4 separate regions of the Homo sapiens genome follow, and all the other regions are linked to region 1. Evidence: fine-mapped expression QTL. A gene starts in region 1. Each other region holds a variant in brackets. All regions are shown on one strand. Distances are from middle to middle. Region 1 holds the start of DNASE2 (deoxyribonuclease 2, lysosomal). Region 2 holds the start of MIR6794 (microRNA 6794). Region 3 has its middle 4.9 kb from the start of ZNF69. Region 4 holds the start of RNASEH2A (ribonuclease H2 subunit A).

What was found. PIP is the estimated chance that this variant, and not a neighbour inherited with it, causes the effect.
Region 2: its variant is fine-mapped to the expression of DNASE2 in whole blood (TOPMed, PIP above 0.99).
Region 3: its variant is fine-mapped to the expression of DNASE2 in whole blood (TOPMed, PIP above 0.99).
Region 4: its variant is fine-mapped to the expression of DNASE2 in whole blood (INTERVAL, PIP above 0.99).

What each region holds. Positions count from the first base shown.
Region 1 is chr19:12,878,025-12,885,519 of GRCh38, reverse strand. DNASE2 (deoxyribonuclease 2, lysosomal) reads left to right here and starts at 4,071. Exons shown (of 6, transcript NM_001375.3): 1 at 4,071-4,230; 2 at 4,368-4,548; 3 at 4,640-4,718; 4 at 6,686-6,850; 5 at 6,941-7,138. The coding sequence starts at 4,145. KLF1 (KLF transcription factor 1) reads left to right here. Exons shown (of 3, transcript NM_006563.5): 2 at 1-203; 3 at 460-1,098. The coding sequence ends at 635. RefSeq lists enhancers at 47-136, 34-585, 1,458-1,719, 4,144-4,253, 3,913-4,540 and cis regulatory regions at 9-509, 1,389-1,909, 2,449-2,949, 3,689-4,249.
Region 2 is chr19:12,851,542-12,859,036 of GRCh38, reverse strand. It overlaps MAST1 (microtubule associated serine/threonine kinase 1), which reads right to left. Exons shown (of 26, transcript NM_014975.3): 8 at 7,002-7,103; 9 at 6,790-6,922; 10 at 6,642-6,709; 11 at 596-675; 12 at 298-506. MIR6794 (microRNA 6794) reads right to left here and starts at 6,777; the gene lies at 6,710-6,777. RefSeq lists an enhancer at 6,348-6,848. The variant G/A (reference allele first, on the strand shown) is at 4,659.
Region 3 is chr19:11,879,165-11,886,659 of GRCh38, reverse strand. No RefSeq gene overlaps it. Among named protein-coding and RNA genes, the nearest start is that of ZNF69, 4.9 kb to the left of the region's middle. RefSeq lists an enhancer at 5,160-5,339. The variant A/T (reference allele first, on the strand shown) is at 4,430.
Region 4 is chr19:12,802,754-12,810,248 of GRCh38, reverse strand. RNASEH2A (ribonuclease H2 subunit A) reads right to left here and starts at 3,665. Exons shown (of 8, transcript NM_006397.3): 1 at 3,449-3,665; 2 at 3,170-3,241; 3 at 2,920-3,043; 4 at 2,743-2,830; 5 at 41-178. The coding sequence starts at 3,575. THSD8 (thrombospondin type 1 domain containing 8) reads right to left here. Exons shown (of 2, transcript NM_001386800.1): 2 at 5,860-6,145. The coding sequence ends at 5,946. RefSeq lists enhancers at 3,562-3,611, 3,812-3,941 and a cis regulatory region at 3,386-4,418. The variant G/C (reference allele first, on the strand shown) is at 2,219.

The sequences.
Region 1 (7,495 bases):
TTGTTTGGGACCCGGGACGGTGGGCACTGGACTCGGGGGGACTGCAGAGGATCCAGGTGTGATAGCCGAGACCGCGCCATCCAAGCGAGGCCGACGTTCGTGGGCGCGCAAGAGGCAGGCAGCGCACACGTGCGCGCACCCGGGTTGCGGCAAGAGCTACACCAAGAGCTCCCACCTGAAGGCGCATCTGCGCACGCACACAGGTGAGGGGGCGGGGCCCCGGACATGAGAAAGGGCGCGGCGCCCGCTGTAGTTACAGGGGAAGAAGGGTTGCAGAGGGCGGGACTTGGACTTGGCTGGCCTCTGAGAGTGAGTGCCTCCTTAAATTTTGTGCCCTAGGGGCCTCACTTTGTTCATCCTAGTCCCAGCCCAGGCTGAGTAAAGGGGTGTGGCCAGATGCAGGGGACCCGGGGACATGACTGGGCAGACAGTGGCGCTTATGGCTTCCTTGTCCCCTAGGGGAGAAGCCATACGCCTGCACGTGGGAAGGCTGCGGCTGGAGATTCGCGCGCTCGGACGAGCTGACCCGCCACTACCGGAAACACACGGGGCAGCGCCCCTTCCGCTGCCAGCTCTGCCCACGTGCTTTTTCGCGCTCTGACCACCTGGCCTTGCACATGAAGCGCCACCTTTGAGCCCTGCCCTGGCACTTGGACTCTCCTAGTGACTGGGGATGGGACAAGAAGCCTGTTTGGTGGTCTCTTCACACGGACGCGCGTGACACAATGCTGGGTGGTTTTCCCACGAATGGACCCTCTCCTGGACTCGCGTTCCCAAAGATCCACCCAAATATCAAACACGGACCCATAGACAGCCCTGGGGGAGCCTCTTACGGAAAATCCGACAAGCCTTCAGCCACAGGGAGCCACACAGAGATGTCCAAACTGTCGTGCAAACCCAGTGAGACAGACCGCCAAATAAACGGACTCAGTGGACACTCAGACCAGCTCCCAGATGGCCCTGGACAGCAGGAGAGGGTGTGGGATGAGGCTTCCCAGAGACCCTGGGTCTAGAAAGCGGCTCCTGAAGGTCCCTTATTGTGGCTGATATTAACTGTCAATGGTTATGGGTCCTATAAAAATGCCCCTCCCAGATAAAGCTTCAGCGTTGGCCTGAATTTTTGGGTTTTGGAGGCTGGAAGATGGCAGGAGGCTGTAAACCTAGAGGTCATATTAGAGGGCCTTACACACCCTCATCTCCTAAACTACAGTGACACCCCTCAACTCCAACAAGCCCCCTTGGGCACTGGAGGCCTTGCTGTCCTCTCTTTTCCCACCCAGTTCAGGCTACACTGTCCTTGTCTTCTGCCTTGAACCCTGCGGACATTGACAGCAAACATCTCCCTGGATTTAAGAGTTCACAGCCTATGACTGCCCAGGGGGTTCATCTTGCCCACTGTCCAGATAGAGCCAATTTATCGAGACAGAGGGATTGCAATAGAGAGAGTTTAATCCACATACATCCAGCTAAATGGGAGATGGGAGTTTTATTACTTGAATCAGCCTCCCTGAAAATTCAGAGGCTAGGGTTATTCAAGAACAGTTTGGTGGGCAGGAGGGCTAGGGAATGGGTGCCTTGCTGCAATCCTGGAGCTGTGGAAAACAGTTGCTGAGTCAGCTTCTGGGTGGGGACCATAGAGTCGCTAGTCTGGGTGGAGTCATCCAGTTGTCAGATATGCAAAAAGCCTAAAAAGACATCTAAAAAGGCCAGCGTTAGGTTTTGCAATAGTCATGTTATTTGCAGAAATAACTGGGGAAGTTGCAAACCTTGTGACCTCCAGAATAATGGCTGGCCATCTTTGTTTTTGTTTTTGAGATGGAGTCTTGCTCTTGCCCAGGCTGGAGTGCAGTTGTTCCATCTTGGCTCACTGCAACCTCTGCCTCCTGGGTTCAAGTGATTCTCCTGTGTCAGCCTACCAGGTAGCTAGGATTACAGGCACATGCCACCATGCCGGGCTAATTTTTGTATTTTTAGAAGAGATGGGGTTTCGAAATGCTGGCCAGGCTGGTTTCGAAATCCTGACCTCAGGTAATCTGCCAGCCTCGGCCTCTCAAAGTGCTGGGATTACAGGCGTGAGGCACCGCACCCGGCCGGAAAAATGGCTGGTCATAATTTAACTACTACACCTACAGTTTAGCAGAATTCAGGCTCCTCTCATCCTCCTAACCTAGTGCCCTTTCATTATTTCTACAAAGGCAGTTTAGTTTGGGGAAGGGCTATTATCATTTAAGCTATAAACTAAATTCCTCCCAAAATTAGCTTGGGGCCAGGCATGGTGGCTCCCTCTTTAATCCCAGCAATTTGGCAGGCTGAGGCGGGCAGATCACTTGAGCCCAGGAGTTCGACACCAGCCTGAGCCCCAAGGTGAAACCCCATCTCTACCAAAAATGGTGAAACCCAGTCTCTACCAAAAATACAAAAATTAGCTGGGCATGTGGCGCATGCCTGTAATCCCAGCTACTCAGGAAGCTGAGGCAGGAGGATTGCTTGAACCTAGGAGGCGGATGTTGCAGTGAGCTGAGATCACACCACTGGACTCCAGCCTGGGCGACAGAGTGAGACAACGTGTCAAAAAAAAAAAAAAAGTTAGCTTGACCCCACTCCAGGAATGACCAAGCAAGGGCAGTTTGGAGATTAAAGGCAAGATGGAGTTGGTTAGGTCAGAGCTCTTTCACTGACATAATTTTCTGTCATAATTTTTGCAAAGGCAGTTTCAAGCCAGTACTCAGATTCCCATAGCCCTTTGCCCTGCCATGATCCTTTGAGGCTGAGGTGGGAGAATCACTTGAACCCCGGAGTTCCAGAGCAGCCTGGGCAACATAGTGAGACCCTCATCTCTGCAATGAACAATTATCTGGGTGTGGTGGCACAGGCCTGTAGTACCAGCTACCTGGGAAGATCTCTTGAGCCCAGTAGGTTGAGGCTGCAGTGAACTGTGATGGAGTCACTGCATTCTAGCCTGGGTGAGAAACCATTATCCTGTCTCAAAACGACAAAAAACAAACATACAGTCACCTCTTTGCTAGCTCAGGGGATCCTGGAGAAAACGTGCAGAATGAAAAAGGAGAGTCTGGGTGGCGTGGATTACATGCCTGTAATCCCAGCACTTTGGGAGGCAAGACAGGTGGATCCCTTGAGCTCAGGAGTTCAGCCTGAGCCACATGGTGAAACCGTGTTTCAAAAAAAAAACTACAAAAATTAGCTGGGCATAGTGGCATGTGCCCGTGATCCCAGCTACTCGGGAGGCTGAGGTGAGAGGATCACTTGAGCTGGGGAGGCAGAGGTTGCAGTGAGCCAAGATTGCGCCACTGCACTCCGGCCTGGGCAACAGAGCGAGATATTGTCCGGGAAAAAAAAAAAAAAAAAAGGAAGGAAAAAAAAAAAGAAAGAAAAAGGGGAAGATACACTGGAACACAAATGCTTCTTAAGGGGCGCAGTGGCTCACTTCTGCAATCTTGGCACTTTCGGGGGCCGAGGCTGGTGGATCACGAGGTCAGGAGTTCGAGACCAGCCTAGTCAACATGGAAAAACCCCGTCTCTACTAAAACTACAAAAATTAGCCGGGCGTGGTGTCGGGCGCCTGTAATCCCAGCTACTCGGGAGGCTGAGGCAGGATAATCGCTTTAATCAGGAAGGCGGAGGTTGCAGTGAACCGAGATCGTGCCATTGCACTCCAGCCTGGGCGACAAGAGTGAAACTCCGTCTCAAAAAAAAAAAAAAAAAAAAAAAAAAAAAAAGAGGAAGAACAAAGGTCCCAAGAGTTGGACCCAGGTTGTAGGGCTGGAATAAAAAATAAAATACAAACTTGTGCCTGATCCAGAAACCCGGGCGGGAGTTGGGTCAGACAGAAGAGCGTGGGCTGGGATTAGCTACCACGAAAAGGAACGGTGGCCAGGCTCCAGGAGACGCTGGAGCGCCGGGCCCGTCGTGGGCGTGGTCTGGGCAGACTCAGCGTTGCCTTTTGCCTCTCCAAAACGCAGCATCGCGTCTCGGGGGAGGAGTCTGTACCCTCGTGATGTCCCCGCCCCGGTTCCCAGGCAAGTTTAGGGAAGTGAAAGGCGCCAGGTGCCAGTCCTGGCCTCTGATGTAACCCAGCGCCCCGCAGTCCCGACACAGATTCCTGGATCTCAGCCCCATAGCAGCTATGATCCCGCTGCTGCTGGCAGCGCTGCTGTGCGTCCCCGCCGGGGCCCTGACCTGCTACGGGGACTCCGGGCAGCCTGTAGACTGGTGAGTGCGCAGCGGGGGGCCTACCATCGCCCCGGGGTCCGGCTGCGGTCACTCAACCGGGATGGCTACCTCCTCGGGGAACCCTGGGGTGCCTTCTCTTCCCTCTCTCCTATTTCTGTGCATTCTCCGACCTCCAGGTTCGTGGTCTACAAGCTGCCAGCTCTTAGAGGGTCCGGGGAGGCGGCGCAGAGAGGGCTGCAGTACAAGTATCTGGACGAGAGCTCCGGAGGCTGGCGGGACGGCAGGGCACTCATCAACAGCCCGGAGGGGGCCGTGGGCCGAAGCCTGCAGCCGCTGTACCGGAGCAACACCAGCCAGGTGAAGGGGGCCCCGGGCCAACTAGGGGCGAAACTCTAGGGCTGCCCTGCCTGGGAGGAATTTCACGTTGCCTCCGTTTATCCGCCCGCAGCTCGCCTTCCTGCTCTACAATGACCAACCGCCTCAACCCAGCAAGGCTCAGGACTCTTCCATGCGTGGGCACACGAAGGGTGAGGCCTGGATTGGGGGCTGGGGAGAGACTCGGGTCCCATTTTTCCAAGGTAACCCCTGACGTGCATGGGGTGGTCGGGGAGATCTGCACTGTCAGACCCTGGGCATCTATTCCCCCCAACTTTTTTTTTTCTTTGTTTTTGAGACGGTGGGAGTTCGCTCTGTCACCCAAGCTGGAGTGCAGTGGCACAATCTTGGCTCACTGCAATCTCTGCCTCTGGGGTTGAAGCAATTCTCCTGTCTCAGCCTCCCAAGTAGCTGGTATTAAAGGCGCACCATCACACCAGGCTAATTTTCATATTTTTAGTACAGACGAGGTTTCACCATGTTGGCCAGGCTGGTCTCGAACTCCTGGTTTCTACCTCAAGTGATCTACCCGCCTTGGCCTCCCAAAGTGCTGGGATTACAGGAATGAGCCACCCTGCCCAGCCGAGTTCCTATGCATTTTTCCAAGCTAACCCCTGACCTCCATAGTGGGGTGGGAGATCTCCCCTGTCAGACCTTGGGCATCTATTTCCCCTATTTTATTTTCTTTTAGACAAGGTCTCACCCAGTCACCTAGGCTGGAGTGCAGTATCACAGCTCACTGCAGCCTTGACCTCCCAGGGCTCAGGTGATCCTCCTACCTCAGCCTCCCAAGTACTGGGCCTGCCGGTACCCCCCACCACGCCTGGCTTTTTTTTTTTTTTTTTTTTTTTGCGGCACTCTCTCTCCATCACCCAGGCTGGAGTTCGGTGGTGCAATCTCAGCTCACTGCAATCTCCATCTCCCCAGTTCAAGCGATTCTTCTGCCTCAGCCTCTGGAGTAGCTGGGATTACAGGTGTGCGCCACCATGCCCAGCTAAATGTTGTATGTTTTAGTAGAGATGGGGTTTTACCAGGTTGGACAGGCTGATATTGAACTCCTGACCTCAGGTGATCCACCTGCCTTGGCCTCCCAAAGTGCTGGGATTACAGGCGTGAGCCACCACACCTGGCCTACTTTTTGTATTTTTGTAGAGTGGGCTTTTGCCATGTTGCCTAGGCTGGTCTCTAAGTCCTGGTTCAAGCAATCCACCCACCTTGGCCTCTTAATGTGCTGCGATTACCGGCATGAGCCGCCACACCTGGCCTGTTTCCCTACCTTACATTACTCTTGGCGTTATTCTGGACTATAAGAATTTATGCCTGCAAAAACTGAGCTCAGCTGTGGTTCTAACACTGCTGGCACCCTCTCTAAGCCCCGCTGCAAACTGAGGGTGTTCCTGATTGCAGATGAGCTTGCTGGGAGGCCTGGAGCAATACCCTCTAATTGCCTTTTTTTTTTTTTTTTTTTTGAGAAGGAGTTTTGCTCTTGCTACCCAGGCTGGAGTGCAATGGTGCAATCTCGGCTCACTGCAACCTCCGCCTCCTGGGTTCAAGTGATTCTCCTGCATCAGCCTCCCGAGTAGCTGGGATTACAGGCATGCACCACCATGCCCGGCTAATGTTGTATTTTTAGTAGTGATGAGGTTTCTCCATGTTGGCCAGGCTGGTCTTGAACTCCCGACCTCAGGTGATCCGCCCTCCTCGGCTTCCCAAAGTGCTGGGATTACACTGCGTGGGGCCTGCCTTCTTTTTTTAAATTTTTATTTATTTATTTATTTATTTATTTATTTACTTACTTACTTACTTATGTTTGAGATGAAATTTTGCTCTGTGGCCCAGGCTGGAGTGCAGTGGTGGATCTCAGCTCACTGCAACCTCCACCTCCTGGGTTCAAGCGATTCTCCTGCCTCAGCCTCCTGAGTAGCTGGGATTACAGGCGTCCACCACCACGCTCAGCTAATTTTTGTATTTTTAGTAGAGATGGGGTTTCGCCATGTTGGCCAGGCTGATTTCTAACTCCTGACCTCAGGTGATCTGTGTGTCTCGGTCTCCCAAAGTGCTGGGATTACAGGCGTGAGCCACTGCGCCCGACCTCCCCTAATGCCTTCTTTTGGTCCAGGTGTCCTGCTCCTTGACCACGATGGGGGCTTCTGGCTGGTCCACAGTGTACCTAACTTCCCTCCACCGGCCTCCTCTGCTGCATACAGCTGGCCTCATAGCGCCTGTACCTACGGGCAGACCCTGCTCTGTGTGTCTTTTCCCTTCGCTCAGTTCTCGAAGATGGGTAAGTCGAGTCAGGGACACAGGATGAGTCCTGGGTTTACTGACCAGAACCTGGAACGATCTTGCATTTCCTCCTCCCCTTGTCCTCCAGGCAAGCAGCTGACCTACACCTACCCCTGGGTCTATAACTACCAGCTGGAAGGGATCTTTGCCCAGGAATTCCCCGACTTGGAGAATGTGGTCAAGGGCCACCACGTTAGCCAAGAACCCTGGAACAGCAGCATCACACTCACATCCCAGGCCGGGGCTGTTTTCCAGAGCTTTGCCAAGTTCAGCAAATTTGGAGATGGTGAGTCTCAAGGTTGAGGGTTGGAGAGCTCCTTCTCTGCAGACAGGGTGACTGGTGTGGCCATGGCTGAGTTCAAGTCAGCGGTAGAGACCAGGTCTGTTTGGGAGCTATAATCACATGATCAGTGAACAGACCTGGGTTCAAACCCTGGGTTTTGCTGTGTGATGTATAACTTCACCTGAGCCTTGGTCTACTCATCTGAAAAATGGGGATACTGACATCTACTTAAAAAATTGTGAATGAAGTGGTACCTGTAAGTCATTTGGGTGCCAGAGGTGGTGCCTCACTCCTGTAATCCCAGTTACTTAGGAGGCTGAGGCAGGAGGATCATTTGAAGACAGGCATCCAAGACAAGCC
Region 2 (7,495 bases), 26 kb after region 1:
GTATGGATGGAAAAACAGATGGATTAGCACATCAGTAGATAGAAGGATAGATGGATGGATAATGGGTCAGACTGAATGTTTTTATGCTGAATGAAATGAAAAACAAATAAACCAATAGATGACTGAATAAATATATAGGTAGAATGGATGGACAAATCAATGACTGGAGAAATAAATAGATGGATAAACATACAGGCCGACTAATCAATATGGAGACTGCGGCTCAGGCAGGCCACCCCGCAGCCCTGACCAGTGAGCACGGCCCCATCTTCCCTGCAGCCCCGCAGGCAGCCACACCTTCCACATATTCCATGACCATGCAGAGGTGGCGCCGAGTCTCAAAGGAGCAGAACATGCCGACCACAAACGGGTTCTCGGCGAAGGTGAGGATATCGCGCTCCACAAAGGCCTGCTGGATCTGGTTGCGGAGGATCAAGTTCTGCTTGTTGATCTTTTTCATGGCAAAGCGCTGCCGCGTGTCGCGGTGCCGCACCAGGTAGACAGCGCTGCAGGGGGAGAGAGCGAGGACCGGCCGTCACCTCCGAGACACCCGGCCTCCGCCACCCTCCCCCCGCCAGAGCCCCGGGTGGCTCACCCGTAGGCACCGTTGCTTATGAGCTTGATGGTATCGAAGTCATTCTCCCCCGGCGGTTTCTTGGCCTTGCTGCTGCGGCCCTTCAGGAAAAAGATGGAGACCACACCACCATCATCATCATGAGAGCAGGATGCTTTTAATTTCATTTTACACATGGGGAAACTGAGGCACAGAATGAAAGAGTCCTTCATCCAAGTGCCATAATGAAAGAGAAAGTTAGGACTTGAACCCAAGACTGACTCTGAAGACATATTCTCATCTTCTTCCACTAGAAAAGATAGCAGGAAACCAACAAAATAGTCATCCTAATATATAAATATATAAAGAGTTCCCAAAAATCAATAACAAAAGCCTAACAATTGAAGAGAAAAAAGTGGGTGAGGTAAGTAAATTACAGTTAGAGCTTTTTTTTTTTTTTTTTTTTTTTTTTTTTTTGAGATAGGTTCTCACTCTGATATTCAGACTGGAGTGTAGTGGTGCTCACTGCAGCCTCCACCTCTAGGGCTCAAGTGATTCTCCTGCCTCAGCCTCCCAGGTAGCTGGGACCACAGGCACATGCCACCATGCCAGGCTAATTTTAGTATTTTGGTTTTGCCATCTTGCCCAGGCTGCTCTTGAACTCCTAGGCTGAAGCAATCTGCCTGCCTTGGCCTCCCAAAGAGTAGGGACTACAGGCATGAGCCACTGTACCCAGCCAGAGTTACAGCTCTTAAACATACTAAAAGATTCGGGCCTGGAGCGGTGGCTCACGCCTGTAATCACAGCACTTTGGAAGGCCAAGGTGGGCGGATCATGCGGTCAGGAGATCGAGACCATCCTGGCTAACACTGTGAAACCCCATCTCTACTGAAAATACGAAACAATTAGCCAGGCATGGTGGCGGGCACATGTAGTCCCAGCTACTTGGGAGGCTGAGGCAGGAGAATGGCGTGAACCCGGGAGGCAGAGCTTGCAGTGAGCAGAGATCATGCCACTGCACTTCAGCCTGGGTGACAGAGCGAGACTCTGTCTCAAAAAAAAAAAAAAGATTCTTGGCCAGGTGCAGTGGCTTACGCTTGTAACCCCAGCACTTTGGGAGGCCAAGGCGGGCGGATCACCTGGGAGGCTGAGGCTGGTGGATCACCTGAGGTCAGGAGCTCGAGACAAGCCTGGCCAACATGGAGAAACCCCATCTATACTAAAAATACAAAATCAGCTGGGCATGATGGCACATGCCTGTAATCCCAGCTACTCAGGAGGCTGAGGCAGGAGAATCGCTTGAACCCAGGAGGCAGAGGTTGTGGTGAGCCGAGATCGTGGCATTGCACTCCAGCCTGGGCAACAAGAGCAAAACTCCATCTCAAAAAAAAAAAATTCTCAATCTCACTTACAATAACAGAAAGGCAAATTATAACTACCACAAAATACCATTTTTCACCTAGCAGATTGGGAGAAAAAACTCCAAAACCTGATATCCTCTATGGGCAAATATGTAGGTGAACATATATACTTTGCTGTTGGGAGTGTAAATTACTGTTTGATACAGATCAGAATTACAAATACATGTTCCCTTTGACTCAGCAATTTTACTTTTGAATTTATGCTACAGATATACTTGCACATGTGAAAAATGGTATATCTACTATCTTGCTCATTGTGAGATTGGAAATAATAATCCATACGTTAAATTAGCCAAACAAACACATGTGGGGTAGTTAGATAAAGAAACATTGTGCCACTGTTAGAAATAATGAGGAAACTCTCTGTCTATGGATTTAGAAAGTCCTCTATTTTATTAAGTGTAAAAATGCAATAGGCAATATGTATTGTACGTTTATGTGCAAAAAAATGTGGCAAAGGCCAGGTGTGGTGGCTCACACCTGCAATCCCAGCACTTTGGGAGGCCAAGGCAAGTGGATCACCTGAAGGTCAGGAGTTCGAGACCAGCCTGGCCAACATGGTGAAACCCTGTCTCTATTAAAAATACAAAAACTTAGCCAGGCGTGGTGGTGGTTGCCTATAATCCCAGCTGCTTGGAAGGCTGAAGCAGGAGAACCACTTGAACCCAGGAAGCAGAGGTTGCAGTGAGCCGAGATCACACTGTTGCACTCCAGCCTGGGCAACAAGAGTGGAACTTTGTCTAAAAAAAAAAAAAAAAGTGGCAAAATAAAACTATGTAATCATATTTCAGGGCTATAGGGCAATGGGGAAAAAAGGTAGGAGTAAGATTTTTTTCACTGTATATCTTTCTTGAAAATTATTTTGATTTTTCTTAGGGACAAAGAGATTTATTACATAGATATTACATAAAAAGATCTATGATATATAAAAATATTGAACTTATATGCTCCAAAGAATGTAGCCTAAAAATATCTGACATAAAAATTGACAGAATTGGGCAGAGTGTAAGAGGTATCTTATGCTGTATTTTTCCTTTATTGTTTGCAATACTTCGCACACTATTGTATGGAACTCTTACCTATAATCAAATAAAAACCAAAATGGCAAAAAAAAAAAAAAAATTGACAGAATTACAAGGAGAATTTGCTTAAAATAAGGTTTCACATTTCTCTCAGAAACTATTAGATTAATCAGGCAAGATAAATGAATAGGGAGATGGAAGATTTGAATCACTCAATTAACAAGTTTGATTAAAAGGAATAACAGAATCCTACAAACAATGAGAGATAAATACCTTTTTTTAGAGTTTTAGATTTTGAGTGATGTCATTCCATTACCTATTCAAAAAATTAAACAAATGGCATATATTGTGAGATTCCTTTTAAATATATACATAAAGGAAAGGTATGTGTATATATCTGTGTGACTGTATAGACACAATTTGAAATAAAGATTACAAACTTAAGCGTCTTCAGGGGCCAGTAGACCAGGGTGGAGGCCATGGATGACGAAGGGGCAGGTACCCAATATCACAGGACCACCCCCACTCAGCTGGTTCCACCACAGTATTATTAGAACTTCTTCTTCTTCTATTTTTTTTTAAGTAGAGACAGGGTCTTGCTATGTTGTCCAGACTGGTTTCAAACTCCTGGGCTCAAGCAATCCTGCCACCTTGGCTTCCCAAAGTGCTGGGACTACAGGCATGAGCCACTACACCCAGCCCTAGAACTTCTGATTTTTCAAGAGAAGGCCCAAACCCAGATTTTGAAGCAAAAATCTTTCAATTTTTATATTTTGCTTCTTTTATTTATCTATTTTTATTTTTTTCAAGATGGAGTCTCACTCTCTCACCCAGGCTGGAGTGCAGTGGTTTGATATCGGCTCACTGCAATCTTTGTCTCCCTGGTTCCAGCAGTTCTCCTGCCTCAGCCTCCCAAGTAGCTGGGATTACGGGTGGGCACCACCACACCTGGCTAATTTTATGTATTTTTTTAGTAGAGACAGGGTTTCACCATGTTGGCCAGGCTGGTCTCGACTTCCTGACCTCAAGTGATCCACCCGCCGCAGTCTCTCAAAGTGCTGGGATTACAGCCGTGAGCCATCAGGCCCAGCCCAAATTTTTGAAAAATACTAGGCAGTTCAGAGAAAACACATGTGTGGCCATTGGGGTAGGACTCTCCACTAGACATCTGGAACATCTGCCAAAGTGTGGCTGGCCTGGGAATAGAATTGGCAATTTTCCCCATGCTGAGCTGCCATTAACACATACAGCCAGTTAGCTTGCTCGAAAGCCCATGCAGGATTCCTCTATAAGTTAAACATAGAGCTACCATATGACCAAGAAATTCCACCTCTAGACGTATATCCTAAATAACTCAAAGCAGTTGTCCAGCCAAATATTTGTACACCCACATTCATAAGAGCACTATTTACAACAGATGAAAGATGGACAACCCAATGTTCACCAGTGGATGAATGCATCTACCATTCAATGGAATATTACTCGGCTATAAAAATGAATGAAGCAGTGACACAAGCTACAACATGGATAAACCTCAGAAACGTTATGTTAAGTGAAATAAGCCAGTCATAAGAGGCCACAGAGCATACGATCCCATTTATAGGAAATATCCAGAAAAAGGCCAGGCATGTGGCTCACGCCTGTAATCGCAGCACTTTGGGA[G/A]GCCAAGGCAGGCAGATCACCTGAGGTCAGGAGTTCGAGACCAGCCTGACCAACATGGTGAAACCCTGTCTTTACTAAAAATACAAAATTAGCCAGGTGTGGTGGCGCATGCCTATAATCCCAGCTACTCAGGAGGCTGAGGGAGGAGAATTGCTTGAACCTGGGAGGCGGAGGTTGCAGTGAGCCGAGATCACGCCATTGCACTCCAGCCTGGGCAACAAGAGTGAAATTCTGTCTCAAAAAAAAAAAAAAAAAGAAATATCCAGAAAAAGCAATTCCACAGAGAGAGAAAATAGATTAGTGGTTGCCAGGGACTGCAGGGAGGGAGGAATGAGGAGGGAGTGTGTAATGGGTGTGAGGTTTCCCTTTGGGGGTGATAAAAAAGTTCTGCAACTACATAGATCTAATGGCTGTACAGCATGGTGAATTACTAAATGCTGCAGAATTGTTTATTTATTACTATTAATCATTATTATTATTATTATTATTATTATTATTATTATTATTTTGAGACAGAGTCTCGCTCTGTTGCCCAGGCTGGAGTGCAGTGGTGGGATCTTGGCTCACACCAACCTCCACCTCCCGGGTTCAAGCAATTCTCCTGCCTCAGCCTTCCAAGTAGCTGGGATTACAGGCATGTGCCACCACGCCCAACTAATTTTTTTGTATTTTTAGTGGAAATGGGGTTTCACCATGTTGGCCAGGCTGGTTTCGAATTCCTGACCTCAAGTGATCCACCCATCTTGGCCTCCCAAAGTACTAGGATTACATGCATAAGCCATTGCACCTGGCCTATTCTTTATTATTTTTAATTTCATTTTTCAAGACAGGGTCTCACCCTGTTGCCCAGGCTGGAGTGCAGTGGTGTGATCATGGCTTACTGAAGCCTTGACTTCCTGGGCTCATAGGATCCTCCCACCTCAGCCTCCCGAGTAGCTGGGACTACAGGGGTGCACCACCACGCCCAGCTGATTTTTTATGCTGCCCAGGCTGGTCTCAAATGCCTTAGCACAAACAATCCTCCTGCCTTGGCCTCCCAAAGTGCTGGGATTACAGGCCTAAGCCACTGCACCCGGCCCCGAATTGTTCATTTTAAAATGGTTAAAAAGGCCGGGCGCGGTGGCTCATGCCTGTAATCCCAGCACTTTGGGAGGCCGAGATGGGCAGATCAACTGAGATTGGGAGTTTGCAACCAGCCTGACCAACATGGAGAAATTTTAGTCTCTACTAAAAATACAAAATTAGCCGGGTGTGGTGTTACATGCCTGTAATCCCAGCTACTCGGGAGGCTGAGGCAGGAGAATTGCTTGAACCCAGGAGATGGAGGTTGTGGTGAGCTGAGATAGTGCCATTGCACTCCAGCCTGGGCAACAAGAGCAAAACTCCATCTCAAAAAATAAATAAATAAATAAATAAAAATAAAATAAAATGGTTAAAAAAGTAAATTAAATTTTATGTTTCATGGATTTTAACATGACAAAGAGGTCACAGGGGAAGAGCAATTATTTTATTTTATTTTATTTTATTTTTTGAGACAGTTTCGCTCTTGTTGCCCAGGCTGGAGTGCAGTGGTGTAATCTCAGTTCACAGCAATCTCTGCCTCCTGGATTCAAGTGATTCTTCTGCCTCAGCCTCACAAGTAGCTGGGATTAGAGGCATGTGCCACCAGGCTTGGCTAATTTTTGCATTTTTTTTTTTTTTAAGTAGAAACGGGGTTTCTCCATGTTGGTTAGGCTGGTCTCGAACTCCCGACCTCAGGTGATCTGCCCACCTTGGCCTCCCAAAGTGCTGGGATTACAGGCATGAGCCAGCATGCCAGGCTCTGGAAGAGCTATTATTAATCCCATTTTATGGATGGGAAAACTGAGGCTCAGAGTGTAGGACCAAGAGATCCACAAAGCCTGAGGGCAAAGAAGCCGGAGATGAGCCCCACCCTGCCCTCCCAGGAACCAGGGTACTGACCGCTTAGCCACCCAGCCTTACCTCAGAGAGATCGTCTTGCTCAGGGGTGTTGGAACCACCACTGTCCTGTTCCTCCAGATGCACCACATCTAGGGAGGGACTGAGAGTGAGCACGAGCTGGGTTCTGGGCCTGCTCACCCCCAGTCCCCCTGCGCCCACCAGCCGGCACCTGGAAAGGGGTCACGGGTGAGGCCCAGCTGGCGGATGATGTAGCGGGGGATGTCCGTCTTCACAAGGTGGCCCTCCTTGGCGTGTCCTTCGGCCGCCTCCAGCAGGTGGTAGAACTCCTCGGGGTTGAATTCCTGAGGCAGGGCAGGAGTGGGCTCACCACAGGCTCCCAGGGTCTACCAACCCACCCCTACCCATGCCCAGCCCCCTCACCAGGCACTCCAGCAGCCTCGCAGGGCGTGAGATGATAATAAGCAACTTCTTCACCAGCTGAGTAACGAAGGCCACCTCCAAGCTCTCAGAGCGTTCATAGGCCTGTGGCAGGGGACACAGAGGGACAGGGCTCATAGGCACTCTGCCTCAGCCCGGCCCCTCTCTCAGCCCCTCAGAGTACATACTGCTGCTACTGTCCCATCTTACAGGTGAGGAGACTGAAGCCCAAGCCACACAGTAAAAATAATGAGGCTGGGCACGGTGGCTCATGCCTGTAATCCCAGCACTTTGGGAGGCTGAGGTGGGTGGATCACTTGAGGTCAAAAGTTTGAAACCAGCCTGGCCAACATGGTGAAACCCCATCTCCACTAAAAACGCAAAATGAGCCAGGCGTGGTGGCAGGTGCCTGTAATCCCAGCTACTTGGGAGGCTGAAGCAGGAGAATCCCTTGAACCTGGGAGGCAGAAGTTGCAGTGAGCCAAGATCACACCACT
Region 3 (7,495 bases), 1.0 Mb after region 1:
TTAATGCGGTCCCTATCTCTGTGTCACTCCTTCATGGGCTGGGGTTCGACCACACAATCTGAGCTGACCCGACTGGCTACTTGTACGTATTTTTCTAAATATAGAAGGAGAGGGGAACGTGAGGTACAGAGATGGAGCGTGTGAGACGTGCAGTTTCGGGGGAACAATGGGTACAGGTAACCAAGGGAACAGATGTGAGTTATTGATTAGAGCTGACGGGAAGGGGGTAGGCTGTTTTACAGTAACTAGGGGCAAGGAGGAACAGGAAAGTTGAGCTGGAGAACAAAAGACAAGGAAGTTAGCAGGCTAAGTCTTTGAAGAGAAACTCAGAGAGGCCAGGCGCGGTGGCTCACGCCTGTAATCGCAGCACTTTGGGAGGCTGAGGCGGGTAGATCACGAGGTCAGGAGATCGAGACCATCCTGGCTAACATGGTGAAACCCCGTCTCTACTAAAAAATACGAAAAATTAGCCAGTCGTGGTGGTGGGCGCCTGTAGTCCCAGCTACTCGGGAGGCTGAGGCAGGAGAATGGCATGAACCCAGGAGGCAGAGCTTGCAGTGAGCCGAGATCACGCCACTGCACTCCAGCCTGGGTGACAGAGTGAGACTCCGTCTCAAAAAAAAAAAAAAAAAGAAACTCAGAGAAATTTACTGTATGTTACAATTCCTCCCTTTTAATTTTCTTATGATTTTTTCTCTTTAAACTTTTTTAACGTGTTTTGGCTTTGCTGTTTGATTTGATCTTTTAAAAGGAAAAGCTTACTTGAATAAGGTGGAGGAGAACTAAGGGAGGTTTCAGTAAATGCTGTTCGTACAATCCTTTGTATTAGCCTACGGATGCATGGTATGACACAACGCCTAACAAGAATAAGTACACCTGTTACGACTGTAAAAGAAATAAGTATTGAGGCTATGATTCTTTATTGACTGAACTACTTTCCTAGCCATCTTGAAATAGGGTCATTGACTCCAGAAATTTTAGCTAATTCATTGGATAAAGCGGTAAGTCTTTGCAAGGCCTTTGTTATGCTCTCACTGGGGGCAGTGTTGTTTGGAATGAAGGTACAACACTGGGTTTTAATCATAACACAAACTCCACCTTTTTTGGCTAATAACATGTCTGGAGCCATTCTGGTTTTTATTTTTTGAGATGGAGTCTCACTTCGTGGCCCAGGCTGGAGTGCAGTGGCACCATATTGTCTCACTGCAAGCTCTGCCTCCCGGGTTCACGCCATTCTCCTGCCTCAGCCTCCCCAGTAGCTGGGACTACAGGTGCCCGCCACTACGCCCGGATACTTTTTTTGTATTTTTTAGTAGAGACGGGGGTTTCACCATGTTAGCCAGGATGGTCTCGATCTCCTGACCTTGTGATCCGCCCACCTTGGCCTCCCAAAGTGCTGGGATTACAGGCATGAGCCACCGCGCCCAGTCAAGTGATTCTGTTTTCTTAAGCTATTTGGCTAGTAGGCCTTAACTGGTCAGCTGTTTTTTGATAAGATCCTTGGTGTAATTCATAAACTGCTGCTAATTATAATAGATGTAATTTATCGAAGCTACATTTTTATTAATAGTTATTCGGGGAAATATGGGTTTAAATCTTGCAGTTATTTGGTCTCAGGTTTTGAACTTGTTAGGCACTCCCCATGGGACTCTAATGGCCTTTATGTAAACTTGAGAGTCAAAAGACTTATAAGGGGCTTCTCTTATTTTTTGGTGTTGTGGCTTTTCTTTTTTTTTGGTTGATGAAATGCCAGTGTGAAAGGGATCGCCAATTGGACAAGAGCGCAAGTGCCGCTCCAGTTACTTGGCAGAGTATCCAGTAAAGGTCCACTACAATACCACCATACATCTGCTTGAGGATGACTAAGGGCAGACTGATGGGTAAGTTTTTGGAAGGGCTTAAGCTTATTGCATCTTGTTAAGCTTCTAAGGAACGCCAGATTCTCCCCTCGTCGTGAGAGACATGAGGTGAAATTGACGTCAGGAGAAGGAAGCTGAATGGCCTTTGGGGGCTGGCCTGCAGGTTGTTGGACTTCGGGATATAGCAGAGAGAGAGCTTGGCATGATTTGTTGCCCCAGGCTGTGGAATTTTGGAAAAGAGCTACCATACAGCCTATGCCTGGTCGGCTGAAGGGCTATCCTAGTGGAAAGGAAACAGTCTGGGCCTCTAGTCTGCCATGCATACAAGCGTAACAATTGCTTTTGTTCAATGTGCGGACGGAATATTGAATCCATTCCAACCAGGTATTTACATCTTGATATCCTGTTTTAATTGCTAGGGTTTGTCTTAAATCTTTTACTTCTACAATATTTACTTTAGTAGTATCATTAGGTAGAAAACAGGTGGCAGTCTGATTAGAAGAAAGCTTAGAAGGAGAAGAGAAGGAAGGGGGTGAAGAGAATGAAGGATTAATAAAACGCATTTCGAAAGATCTTATGAGGTCTGTGCTGGCCAAGTTGGCTCCTGTTCCATAGAAGTGACTTAAAGTAGGTTTAGGGTCAGTAGAGGTGGAAATTTGTATGGGATTACATTGATTATACTGGCAATTGGGGAGGTGCTTTTTTTAGTGAAATGAATGTATGGTTTTAAGGATATACAGCCACCTGCTGATGAGGTCTAGCCTTGACATTTGGTTGTCCATAGGACATCATTCTAGCTATGACAGACTTGTTTTCTTATATTTGTTAAGGAACAAGAGTCTTGGTAGGGGGGGCCTTTCACCTTAAAGGGGCAGAGATACTTTTCTGAGGCTGAGACTTGTCTTTGACTTTGGAGATCTTTACAGGGTATGACTAGACATAGCATTAAACGTGATAACTTGGGGTGAGTTTGATTGAGTTACATTAATGACAAGGTGGTCAGCATTGGAAGGGGAAAAGAAGAAAGAGTAATAGAATAGATGTAAGAGGTTAAATTTTTCTTAGCTTTAGTTTGAGGGGGTTTTCCCCTGGAATAATGGCCTACGACTTTGGGGGTGGCGGTGCTTTCTTGACTCGGGTGTGATGGGTCTATCCTTTCTCTGCTGTCCAGACTGCAGTTTCAATGGTGGGAAGTACTAGGCCAGCTCCTCAGGCCGGTGTTGACGCACTGGGAACTCCAGGAGCCGCACCTGTACTGGAAAATTGTGAGTTTTGAGGGAAGAGAAAGTGGAAGATAAACCAAGTATGTAGGAATGTTGGCAGTGGATTGCTTTGAGAGGTAGTTTGGATTAATAGGAAGACAGAAGACATTTGAGTTATGGCAACTAAGTTTCTAGACTTGTTTGGCTAAGGATGTACATTTTCATACACATATAAACTTTAACTGTGCTATACATAGCTTGAGGTCTTTAATGGGTCCTCTAATTTAGGTGGGATAGGACTTCTTTCATAAGAGGTTTAAATAACATTTGAATTCCCTTCAGTGCCTACAGGAGAAACGGCAGCTGGTTCGGATTATCTGATTTGCTAGGTTATTTTCTTAACTCTTGAAAGATAGGATTTTTGGTGCCTGGGGACGTGGAAAATAGCTTTTTTTTTTTTTCTGGTAACTGAAGGTTATTTAACACTTGGGTTATTAACTCTTCATGAACAAGGCTTTGACCTTTATTATTGTCTGAAATTTTCTAAATGTATGAGCCACGATAAAGGTGTATTTAGAATCAATATAGATTAGTATAGATGGTTCCTTTGCAGTTACTTTAAAGCTTGACTAAGTGCAAACAGCTTACAAATTTGGGTAAACTATTAAACAATTTTTAAATTTTATTTCTCTAGGAACTTCTCTATTTATTATTGAACATCTGTTGAATCCTTTTTCCTTTAATCATTTTTGAAGGGGGTTTCTCTTAAGTTTGGCCGGACATTTGTATGGTAATCAGTTAAATCTAAACATGTGTGCTTCCTTTTTAGATTTGGATCTTTCGTTAAGAAACTTGTTAGGTTAAGCAAATTACTAGTAACATTAAACTATCATTTTTAACAGAATAGCCTCATATTTATACACATGTAATTCTTTTTTGGTGGTACATTTTAACATAGGTGACTTTAAAGAATCAGAGTTCTTTTCTGGTGGATATTTTCACTTTTAACACTGGCCTGACTATAATAAATGCTAGTGGATATATCCGCTGAAAGATTATCTACTTCTTGCTCAGGAAACTTAGCTGCGGGGATGCCAGGCTGCTTGGAGCCATCGCTGAAGCCCCGTATTACTTAGCCTCAGCAAAGTAAGGCAGATATCCTATAATGTAGTTTGCATGGGGCATAGGCTGGGGCCTGGCTCGCATGTCATGCAGAGCTGCCGTCAATACAGTGCCAGGACCTTGGACCAGCCAGTGGGCAGGAGCATGGGCTTTGCCGCTGCAGGGGTGCACTATGGGCCAGACAACGCTGACAACATGTTGCGGCAGATCCTTCATGTTGCTAGCCTGGCAAAAGCCATCTGGTGA[A/T]TTAGGAGCTTGGAGTTCTTTAGGGGAGAGGGACTTAGGCTGGGGAAGAACAGACTTACTGGGCGATGCCTGAGGGGAAGGGTTGGGTATTAGGTGGGGAATGGTCTAGGGGATCTTGCGAGTTGTTCTTTTTGCTAGGATCCCCCAAGCCCCTTCCTTCACTGTCTTTTTCATTAAAGATGGTTCTATCTTAATAGGGCACATGTACAACTCATTTTCCTCCAAATATTAGTTTTTGACTTGCTCCTTTCAATCCTTGGAGGAGGGGAAAGGACAACTCCTTGCAACTAACATAGGGCATAATTTGTTTCTTCTCAGGAGGCAGGTCTTCTACTAGCAACATTTTCTATTAGAAGTTCACAAATCCATCCCTCATTCGACTTAAATTCTGGCCAGAAAACTAAGGGTTCAAGGATTCGTTCTTGAGTCTAAATGGAACAGCAATATTTTATCACTAATTGCTTTTTCTTATGTTTAGTCTTTTCATTATCTTTCTAATGTTTTAACATGAGACCTAGGGGACTATTAGGGGGGATATCTTTGTTGCTAACTTTGTCTTTTTTGCTTGTAATATTTCCTATACTGGGTCCTGGCTAGGCTCAATCCCTCGTGATAGGAATCTCTTGCCTAGGGGGGCTTGCTGTGGCTCAACCCCTCATATTAAGGATCTCTTGCCTATTTTGGGGGTTCCTTGTGGCTCAGCCTCTCAAATTAAGGATCTCTTGCCTATTTGGGGGGTTCCTTGTGGCTCAACCCCTCATATTAGGAGGTCTTTTGCCTATCCCTCACTGGAAGTGTGGCTAAGGCTCAATTCCACTATCCTTTAGCTCCACCTGCTGGAGGTTCCTTGCACCCTTCTTTCGCTTCATCCACTCTGGCCGCTTCCCTCGCAGGTTTGTTTCAGGTTCCTCTTAGCATTGATGGCAGGTCCGTATAAACCTGTGACAGGACCCCCGCAGGGCTGCCCTAAGCCGTGTGAGGTGACCACAGAACCGCAGATTGGACTCACTCGCTCCGCACAGCAGTAGTGCTTGTTACCATTCATGCACTTTCAACCCCCAGAATGCCCTGACACACCCCTCCGACTACCAAAGAATTACTTTGTTGCCCCTGCAACGTTTCCCACCTTGGTCTGTGCACAGAGTTTACCTGGTCGCTGCGGTATTGCAAGCCTCTCTTCCCCGCGTTGCTGAGAGTCCGGGTTTATTCGTCAAAATGGGTGGGTCTCGATCTCCTGTCCCTGAGGCCACCGCAATGGGGCAGTGGGACGCGTCTCCCCAGGGTAGGGTGACTGAAGAACTCTTCCAAAAGGAGCATGGGGATCTCGGACGATCCCCTAGAATTGTTGGATATAAAATGCTCCCGGAATAAAAGCTTGGTGCCGTGAAGTAAAACCAGCACTCAGGCAAAATTTTAATTCTCTCAGCAAGGCAATTTACTACTGCAGAAGGGTGCCACTCACGTCAATCAAGATCACAAGAGCACAGAGAACAAAGGAGACCAGGAGGTTTTTATCCTTAATGCGGTCCCTATCTCTGTGTTACTCCCCCATGGGCTGGGGTCGGACCGCACAGTCTGAGCTGACCCGATTGGCTGCTTGTACATATTTTTCTAAATATAGAAGGGGAGGGGGATGTGAGGTACAGAGGTGGAGCATGTGAGATGTGCAGTTTTGGGGGAACAATGGGTACAGGTAACCAAGGGAACAGATGTGAGTTATTGATTAGAGCTGATGGGAACGGGGTAGGCTGTTTTAAAGTAACTAGGGGCAAGGAGGAACAGGAAAGTTGAGTTTGAGAACAAAAGACGAGGAAGTTAGCAGGCTAAATCTTTAAAGAAAAACTTAAAGAAATTCACTGTATCTTACAAATCTGACCCCAGTGGCCCCATGCATGTCAAACCCCAAACCCTGCCCAGAAGACAGCCCCAGGCTCCAGAGGTACAACACCAGAAAGGACAGAACCCCCACACATACGTGTGCATGTGGGTCTTCTGCTTTCCAGGGCTCTTCAGCTTCTCGGAATCCGCACTCCTTCTGGAGCTGCTCTGAGCAATTGGAGGCCACCTGTAGGGGAGGGCGGGCTGCCCGGAAGCCCCCAGGAAAGGCTCCTTTCCCTTCCTTTGCAGGCTCCACACTGGCCTCAGCGTTGAGTCACCGGCCTCGGGCTCTGCTGCCCCCTGCAGGTTATTCAGCTACTTCTCACCCCATTGATCAGTTCCATGACACAAACACCCTCAATCCCATTGTGTGAATAAGACACCAGCAGAGTCCCTGCTCTCCTCCTATGTTTATGTATAAAGTGGGGAAGGAAAATTCTAAGATAACTTAAGTGCATTTAAAAGATTTCCAGATCGTGGTGGAGGTGGCAGCTGAGGGACGCACGTTCAGTGACACTGCAGTACCTCCGGGCCTGGCTGGTTGGAGAGAGGGTGGAGAGCTGGAGATGAATGTGGATATATGGAGGGAGCAGCCCTGGGAACCGGGCTCTGCAGCAGCGCGGCTCTAGGGCCTGGAGCCCGGGGGAGCAGAGATGATGGGGGCTCCTGGGACAGGACGCTTGGGGAGAAGAGAGTCAGGCGGTTTCCATGGGACAGGGGTGCTGTGGCAGCTGGTGTGGGCCTGTGGCTATCATAACTAAGCCCGATTGGGACGTGAAAACTTGGATTCCGTGGGAATTTATGAAGAGGAAGGCTCTGATGACAAAGAAGTCATCGATGAGGAGAGGGATTAGGGTCACTGGCAAGCTCGCCCCCTTATGGAAAGAAAAGTGAACGTTCAGCTACTGCGGCAAAATGGGGTCAAAGGATGAGACTCTCACTGTCAGGGAATAAATTGCTGCAGAACTCTTAGAGATTGCAAAGACCTTCAAACAACAGCCTGGGAGGCCGGGTGCCATGGCTCACGCCTGTAATCCCAACATTTTGGGAGGCCAAAGTGGGAGGATCGCTTGAAGCCCGAGATTGGAGACCACCCTGAGCCGTGAAGTGAGACCCTCCCATCTCCATAAAAAATTTTTAATTACCAAGGAGAAGTGTGTGTACCTACAGTCTCAGCTACTCAGGAGG
Region 4 (7,495 bases), 75 kb after region 1:
TGGGATGGTGGAAGCCAGCCATGGCTAGTAGGGTACTGACCTTGGCACAGATGCTGGCAGCACTAACCACCGGGTAGAGGGCATCTGCTTTGGCCTTGACCGTCACCTCAATCCCGGGAAAACTTTGCTGCAGCCGCGCCTGGTATGTCTCTGGCATCCCTACGGTGTCCACGAATACCTGCCACAGCAACAGACACATATTAATTGAACAAACAACTGTACCAATGCTCTAGCCTCACAGCCCTGGCACGTTCTTCCTGCTACCCAGAATCCTCTTCTCCAGCACGTCCCCAGGATGGATCAATCAGGGATTTCAACTCGAACATCTCCTCCTAGACCAGGCAAAGTTGTTCAGGCCTGTGATCCCAGCACTTTGGGAGGCTGAGGCGGGAGGATCGCTTGATCCTGGGAGTTTGAGGCCAGGCTTGGCAACACAGTGAGACCCCATCTTTATAAAAACATAAAATAAATACAATAAAATAAAGAAAAAACTCACCTCCTGAAGAGGCTTTCTCTATCACGCTGCTTTTACTCTAACTTATTTAGCACCTACTGCATGCCACATACTGTTCTAGGAACTGAGGTGGCAGAAAACACTAGAAAAAAATTGGTAGAGTGCGTTAGCACAAGCCTGTAATCCCAACACTTTAGGAAGCCGAAGTGGGAGGATCGCTTGAGGGCAGGTGGTTGAGACCAACCTGGGCAACATATGGAGACCCTGTTTCTACAAAAAATAAAAAGTTAGCTAGGTGTAGTGGTGAATAAAGGCTTGAAGGAGGTGAGGAAGTGAACTGTGCAGAGATCTGGGGAAGAGGGCTCTAGGTGTGAGAACAGCCAGTACAAAGGCCCTGAGCTGGGACCAGGTTCATGATGCTGGGCCCATGCATGGGGGCCTTTGGCTGCAGCACCGAAGAGAGGGTCCAAGAGCTGCTGGGGGAAAGTGGTATCTCCACAGCACTACTGTTTTCAGAAACAACCTTTATTTTTTGTTTACCAGCTGACCATCTTTCATGTTTTATTTTTTTATTTTTTATTTTTAGTAGAGATGGGGTTTCACCATGTTGGTCAGGCTGGTCTCGAACTCCTGACCTGATGATCCGCCCGCCTCGGCCTCCCAAAGTGCTGGGATTACAGGCGTGAGCTACTGCGCCCAACCTCCAGCTGACCATCTTTCTGCCCAGGCTAGGCCCTGAACGCCTACGGGTAGGGCCCTTGTCTGTCTACACCAGTTACTGTATCGCCAGCTCTGCATTTGGGCCTGGTCCTCAGGTCCCTCCTCAGCAGGGTCTACCTTGCTATAATTCCTTTCTTTCTTCTTCTTTTTGTGGAGATGGAGTCTCGCTATGTTGCCCAGGCTGGTCTGGAACTCCTAGCCTCAACCAATTTGCTCACCTCAGCTTCCCAAAGTGCTGGGATTACAGGCGTGAGCCACCATACCCAGCATACAATTCCTACGTCAAGGTTATTTTGCCTTGTTATTCTCTCAGAACGGTCCATTCTTTCATTGAGAGCATTCGAGGCAATGCTGATTTATGTTTTTCTCTGGTAATTTAATGTAATTCTGCCCCACTCGACTGTGAATTTTCCTGATTTAATTTCCACTGTGATCGGAAAACTAAATGTCGAGATGTGCATTTCAAAAAGACTACCTTCTGTTGCTGCTTGGGGAACAGATTGGAGGGGATAGGAGGGTGAGGGACGAGAGACGACACTCAGCAGGTGTCCAGGGAGTGGGGGGTGTCCTGGGCTAGGACAGAGGTGACAGGTAGACAATGTAGGATTTGTTCTGGAGACTGAGCCTTTAGGATGAGGGAGAGATTAGATGGAGACGGGACTAGGGGCTACACTGTGGTCGTCAGTGTGGCACACATTTAGGGCAGAAACAGGAGCACGAAATCAACAGTAGCAATGAATATGCCCGAGGCACTCCAGACGTATCTGATGCTGAATCTGCACACTGCACATTTTTGCCCACATTTATTTTTTATTTTATTTTTATTTTTATTTTTCGCTCTGTCCCCCAGGCTGGAGTGCAATGGCGCGATCTCACCTCACTGCAACCTCCGCCTCCCGGGTTCGAGCAATTCTTCTGCCTCGGCCTCACCAATAGGTGGGATTACAGGCACCCGCCACCATGCTGGGCTAATTTTTTGTATTTTCAGTAGAGATGAGGTTTCACCATGTTGGCCAGGATGGTCTTCAACTCCTGACCTCAGGT[G/C]ATCTGCCTGCCTCAGCCTCCTGAAACGCTGGGATTACAGCCGTGAGCCACTGCGCCTGGTCTCCCATTTTTAGTTTATTTTTTATTTTTTATTTTTTTGAGACAGGGTCTTGCTCTGTTGCCCGGGTTGGAGTGCAATGGCACAATCTTGGCTCACTGCAACTTCTGCCTCCTGGGTTCAAGCGATTCTCCTGTCTCAGCCTCCTGAGTAGCTAGGATTACAGGCGCCTGCCACCACGTCCAGCTAATTTTTGTATTTTTAGTAGAGACGGGGTTTCACCATGTTGGTCAGGCTGGTCTCGAACTCTTGACCTCCGGTGATCTACCCGCCGCGGCTTCCCAAAGTGCTGCGATTATAGGCGTGAGCCACTGCGCCCTGCCTCCATTTTTGAGTTGGGGGGCTTCCTTTGTCACCCAGGATGGAGTGCTGTGGCATGATCATGGCTCACTGCAGTCTCGAACTCCTGTTTTGTCCCCATTTTATCCTGAGATGACCAAATGGGGACAACTTACAGTTAACTCACCTGGGTGACGTTCACGCCCTGGTCCAATGCATACTGTATAAGCCCAGTGGCTGTATCATGTGACAGGGAGTTCAGGTTGTATTTGACCCTGTGGTGGGGAACAGAGCCCAGTTAATCTCATTCTAGGAACAAAGCTTGGTCAGCCCATGCTGGCTGCCCCTCCCGGGGACCCCTCACCGCCCAAGCATGCTGGTAGAGATGAGGTTTGGAGACAGCACATCCAGCGCCCAGCCGACAAAGTCCGTGTCCTCCATTTTCGCAAACAGCCTTTCCCGCTCGCTCTCCAATAGGGTCTTTGAGTCTGGGAGGAGGTTTGGAAGAGAAGGGGAACAGCTGGTTCTCCCAGTTCCTGCCCTCCCCTTTCAGTTCTCACCTGCCCCTGCACATACCCAGGAATCCCTTCCCCAGACGCACACCTCGGGCTCACCTGCCACTTTCAGCGCCTCCAGATCTGCCAGGCGAGGCAGGGGACAATAACAGATGGCGTAGACCATGGGGCCTGGGGAGAAGGGGTGTCAGTTTTCTGGCAGCCGGGGTCCAATCACTGAGCCCGTGAAAGTTGCCATTCATCCCTGTTCTATCATCACTGCTTCTTTAGGTGCCATCACCACGACCACATCCCCTCCCTTGGTGCAGTGCAATCCCGACTCCCGTTTCCCGCATCCTCCGTACCACGCCCCTCCCCTCCCTGGCCCTAGGGGCGCACCCAGCACGGGGCCCCTGCCCGCCTCATCGACGCCCAGGACGCAAGGCTCCTTGCGGCACACCGCGGGCACAGGCGAACTCAGGCGACAGCGGCCTGTATTGTCTCTCTCCAGCTCGCTGAGATCCATGCCGCCTCAGCCGCCACCACCAGCTGCAAGAACTAATACTGCAGGAGCGGGTCTCGGCGCGCGTTTTCCGCGGGCCTCGAAGCGGCGCCTGCTTCCGGCCAATCCGCGGGCAGAACACGCCCCTGGCGCTCCCGCCGCCGTGGACGCTTACGCAGCCGACGCCGACGTCGCTGCCGTGCGCCCTCCTGGGAATTGTAGTCCCGAAGGGCTATGGCCGAACACTCAGCTTGGGGAATTCGGTGGACGGGGTCACTTTGCAAGCTCTGCTTCACGGTCTCTGGGGCCCCGCCTGCGTGGCCCGGTGGGAAGAGGGGGAAATAAGAGGGAAACTGAGACGTAGCTTCGAAGACCCAGCCTAACGGGGAACTAGAGAGTCAAATATCACCCCACTCCCAGGACACGGGTCACCGCATCACTGGGTCCCCAACTGCCACTTGGATTCAGGCCCTGTACTTGCGGTCCCTGCTTCTGTACACATTCTAAGTCCCCTGGACCAGGTAGCCCCGCTTCCACTAAACCCAGGCTTTTGGATTTGGAGTCCCCAAACTCCCTCTCTTGGTTGCTCCCTTCGGCCCACCTCCACTCCGTGCAAGATCTGTGCTTCCTAACCTCTGTCTCATTCAGGCCAAGCCTTCCCCACCCCCGTTGGAGATCACAGACCTCGGTGGACTCCTGCTCAGGGTCTCTGCTCCCTATAGAAGCTCATTCCTCCCAACTTAGAATGAATGTCCCCACCCCCACCCCTCGACCCACTTTTTTTTTTTCTTTTTTTTTTTTTTGAGACAGAGTCTCGCTCTTGTCGCCCAGGCTGGAGTGCAATGGCGCCATCTCCGCTCACTGCAAGCTCCGCGTCCCGGGTTCACGCCATTCTCCTGCCTCAGTCTCCCGAATAGCTGGGACTACAGGCGCCCGCCACCACACCCGGCTAATTTTTTGTACTTTTTAGTAGAGATGGGGTTTCACCGTGTTAGCCAGGTTGGTCTCGATTTCCTGACCTTGTGATCCGCCCGCCTCGGCCTCCCAAAGTGTTGGGATTGCAGGCGTGAGCCACCGCACCCGGCCTTCTTTTTTTTTTAGACAGGGTCTCTCTCTGTTGTCCAGGCTGGAGTGCAGTGGCGCGATCTTGGCTCACTGCAACCTCCACCTCCTGGGCTGACGCGATCCTCCCACCTCAGTCTCCCAAGCAGCTGGACTACAGGTGCACACCACACCACCATGCCCGACTATTTTTGGTATTTTTTGTAGAGACGGGGTCTCATTATGTTGCCCAGGCTGGCTTCAAACTCCTGGGCTCAAGCGATCCGGTCGCCTCAGCCTCCCAAAGTGTTGGGATTACAAGCCTGAGCCAGCCACAGTGCCTGGCATCCACCACTTCTATTCCCTGGGCTCACTGGGGCTCATGTCCTCTGCCTGTGGGTTCCCGCCCCTTACCAGGCTCATGCCCCTTCCTCAGGGTCCTAGTTCATTGTCTCTTTATCTCCTTTTACTCCTCTTCGCCTCCCCCTCCACTTTTTTTTTTTTTTTTTTTTTTTTTTTTTTTTTGAGACAGGATGTTACTCTGTTGCCCAGGCTGGATAGCAGTGTAGCGATCTCGGCTTATTGTAACCTTTGCCTCCCAGGCTCAAGCGATCCTTCCTCCCCATCGTACCGAGTAGCTGGGACCACAGGCATGTGCCGCCACGCTCATCTAACTTAAATGTTTTTGTTTGTTTGTTTGTTTGGTTGGTTTTTTTTGAGACAGAGTCTCGCTCTGTCGCCCAGGCTGGAGTGCAGTGGCGCGATCTCGGCTCACTGCAGGCTCCGCCTCCCGGGTTCATGCCATTCTCCTGCCTCAGCCTCCCGAGTAGCTGGGACTACAGGCGCCCGCCACCGCGCCCAGCTAATTTTTTATATTTTTAGTAGAGACGGGGTTTCACCGTTTTAGCCAGGATGGTCTCGATCTCCTGACCTTGTGATCCGCCTGCCTTGGCCTCCCAAAGTGCTGGGATTGCGGGCGTGAGCCACCGCGCCCGGCCTAATTTTAAAAATTTTTATGGAGAGGTGATCTCAACGATATTGCCCAGACTAATCTTGAACTCCAGGACTCAAGAGATCCGCCTGCCTCGGCCTCCCAAAATGCTGGAATTACAGGCGTGAGCCCCGGCGCCCGGCGCCCCCTCCACTTTTCTCCTTTTCTCCCTAGATATCAGCGGGGCTCACGGCTCCTGACTCAGCTTCCCCCTAACCAAATCAGCCTCAAGTCACTCAAGACTTGGAGCCCCAGTTCTCCCTTCCTCAAACTCGCTTCATACCCGCCCCGCACCGCACATCCTCCCTCCGCGCCCACCCTGGGCCCCGCAACTTGCCCCGGCCCTGCTCTCTCACCCGGGCTCAGAGCCTCCAGTCGCAGTCGAAGGGCTTGCAGGATGGACAATCCCGTTGCCGGCAGGGCCGTAACTGGATCAGCTTCTCCGGGTCCATGAAAACCGGGCCCGGCGCTGTGCCCACTACCTCGCGGCTGCGCTCCTGCTTGCCCAGGTCGCAGAGACACCGCCACTTTCCCCACGGGCCAAGGATTGAGTCCTCGACTTCTAGAGAAGGAGGGCAGAGGTGAAGACCTACGTGGAGGGGGCCTACTCCCAATCCCCTCCCCCAGAGAGGGAGAAAGATAAAGATACTAACGAATAAGAGAAGCACATATTCGCTAGACTCTGCTTCTATGCCAGACACCCTGCCACAGATTATCTCATTTAAGCTTTTTTTTTTTTTTTTTTTTTTTTTTTGAGACAGGGTCTCGCTCTGTCGCCCAGGCTGGAGTGCAGTGGCGCAGTCACAGCTCACTGCAGCCTCAACCTCCTGGGCTCAAGCAATCCTCCTACCTCGGCCTACCAAGTAGCTGGGACTACAGGCACATGCCACTGTGCCTGGCTAATTTTTTGTATTTTTTGCAGAGACGGTGTTTCACCATGTTGCCCAGGCTGGTCTGGAACTCCTGGGCTCAAGTGATACTCCCATCTCAGCCTCCCAAAGTGCTGGGATTACAGGTGTGAGCCAGCCACCATGCCTGGCCTCATTTAATATTTCCACGAGTCTCAGGTGGGGAAACCAAGACCCAGAGACAGCAAGCCAACCTTCCAAGCTCATATACGGGGTAAGTGGGCCAGAGGAACTACAACCTGACACTTCCAGGCTGTGCCAGCCTGCCCAGTTGTGAGTGTCCTACAACATCCTTGGTGCCCGCCATTTGAAGCTGACTTCTGTCTTCAGGGGTGTGACCATGGCCCTACCTAGAAGGCACAATGCCACCTGACAGCAGGGTTGTCAAGTGATAAATGGCATAATTGACATAATGAAGGTAAGTAAATCTCCCGGTGCTGTGCTAGCATATACAAACCAATTTATTATGATCAGTTTGTTTATTTATTTAATTTATTTATTTTGAGACAAGATCTTGCTCTGTTACCCAGGTTGGAATGCAAGGGCATAATCATGGCTCACTGCAGCTTCAAACTCCTTGGCACAAATGGTCCTCCTGTATCAGCCTCTTGAGTAGCTGGGACTACAGGCGCATGCCACCATGGCAGGCTAATTTATTTTTTATTTTTATTTATTTATTTATTTTTGTAGAGTAGGGGGTCTCTCCATGTTGCCCAGGCTGGTCTTGAATTCCTGGGCTCAAGCAGTCCTCCCGCCTCGGCCTCCCAAAGTGCTGGGCCATCAAGTCAGGCTAATTTTAAAATATTTTTTGTAGAGATGGAGTCTTGCTGTGTGGGCCAGGCTGGTCTGGTCTCCGAGACCAAGGGATCCTCCCACCTCAGCCTCCCAAAGTGCTAGGATTATAGGCGTGAGCTACCGCGCCGGCCACTGTGATCACTTTAAAGGGCTCTTTACTGAATCTGCCCCTTTCCCCTATGAGACAGATCTTATCCCAACTCCGATCT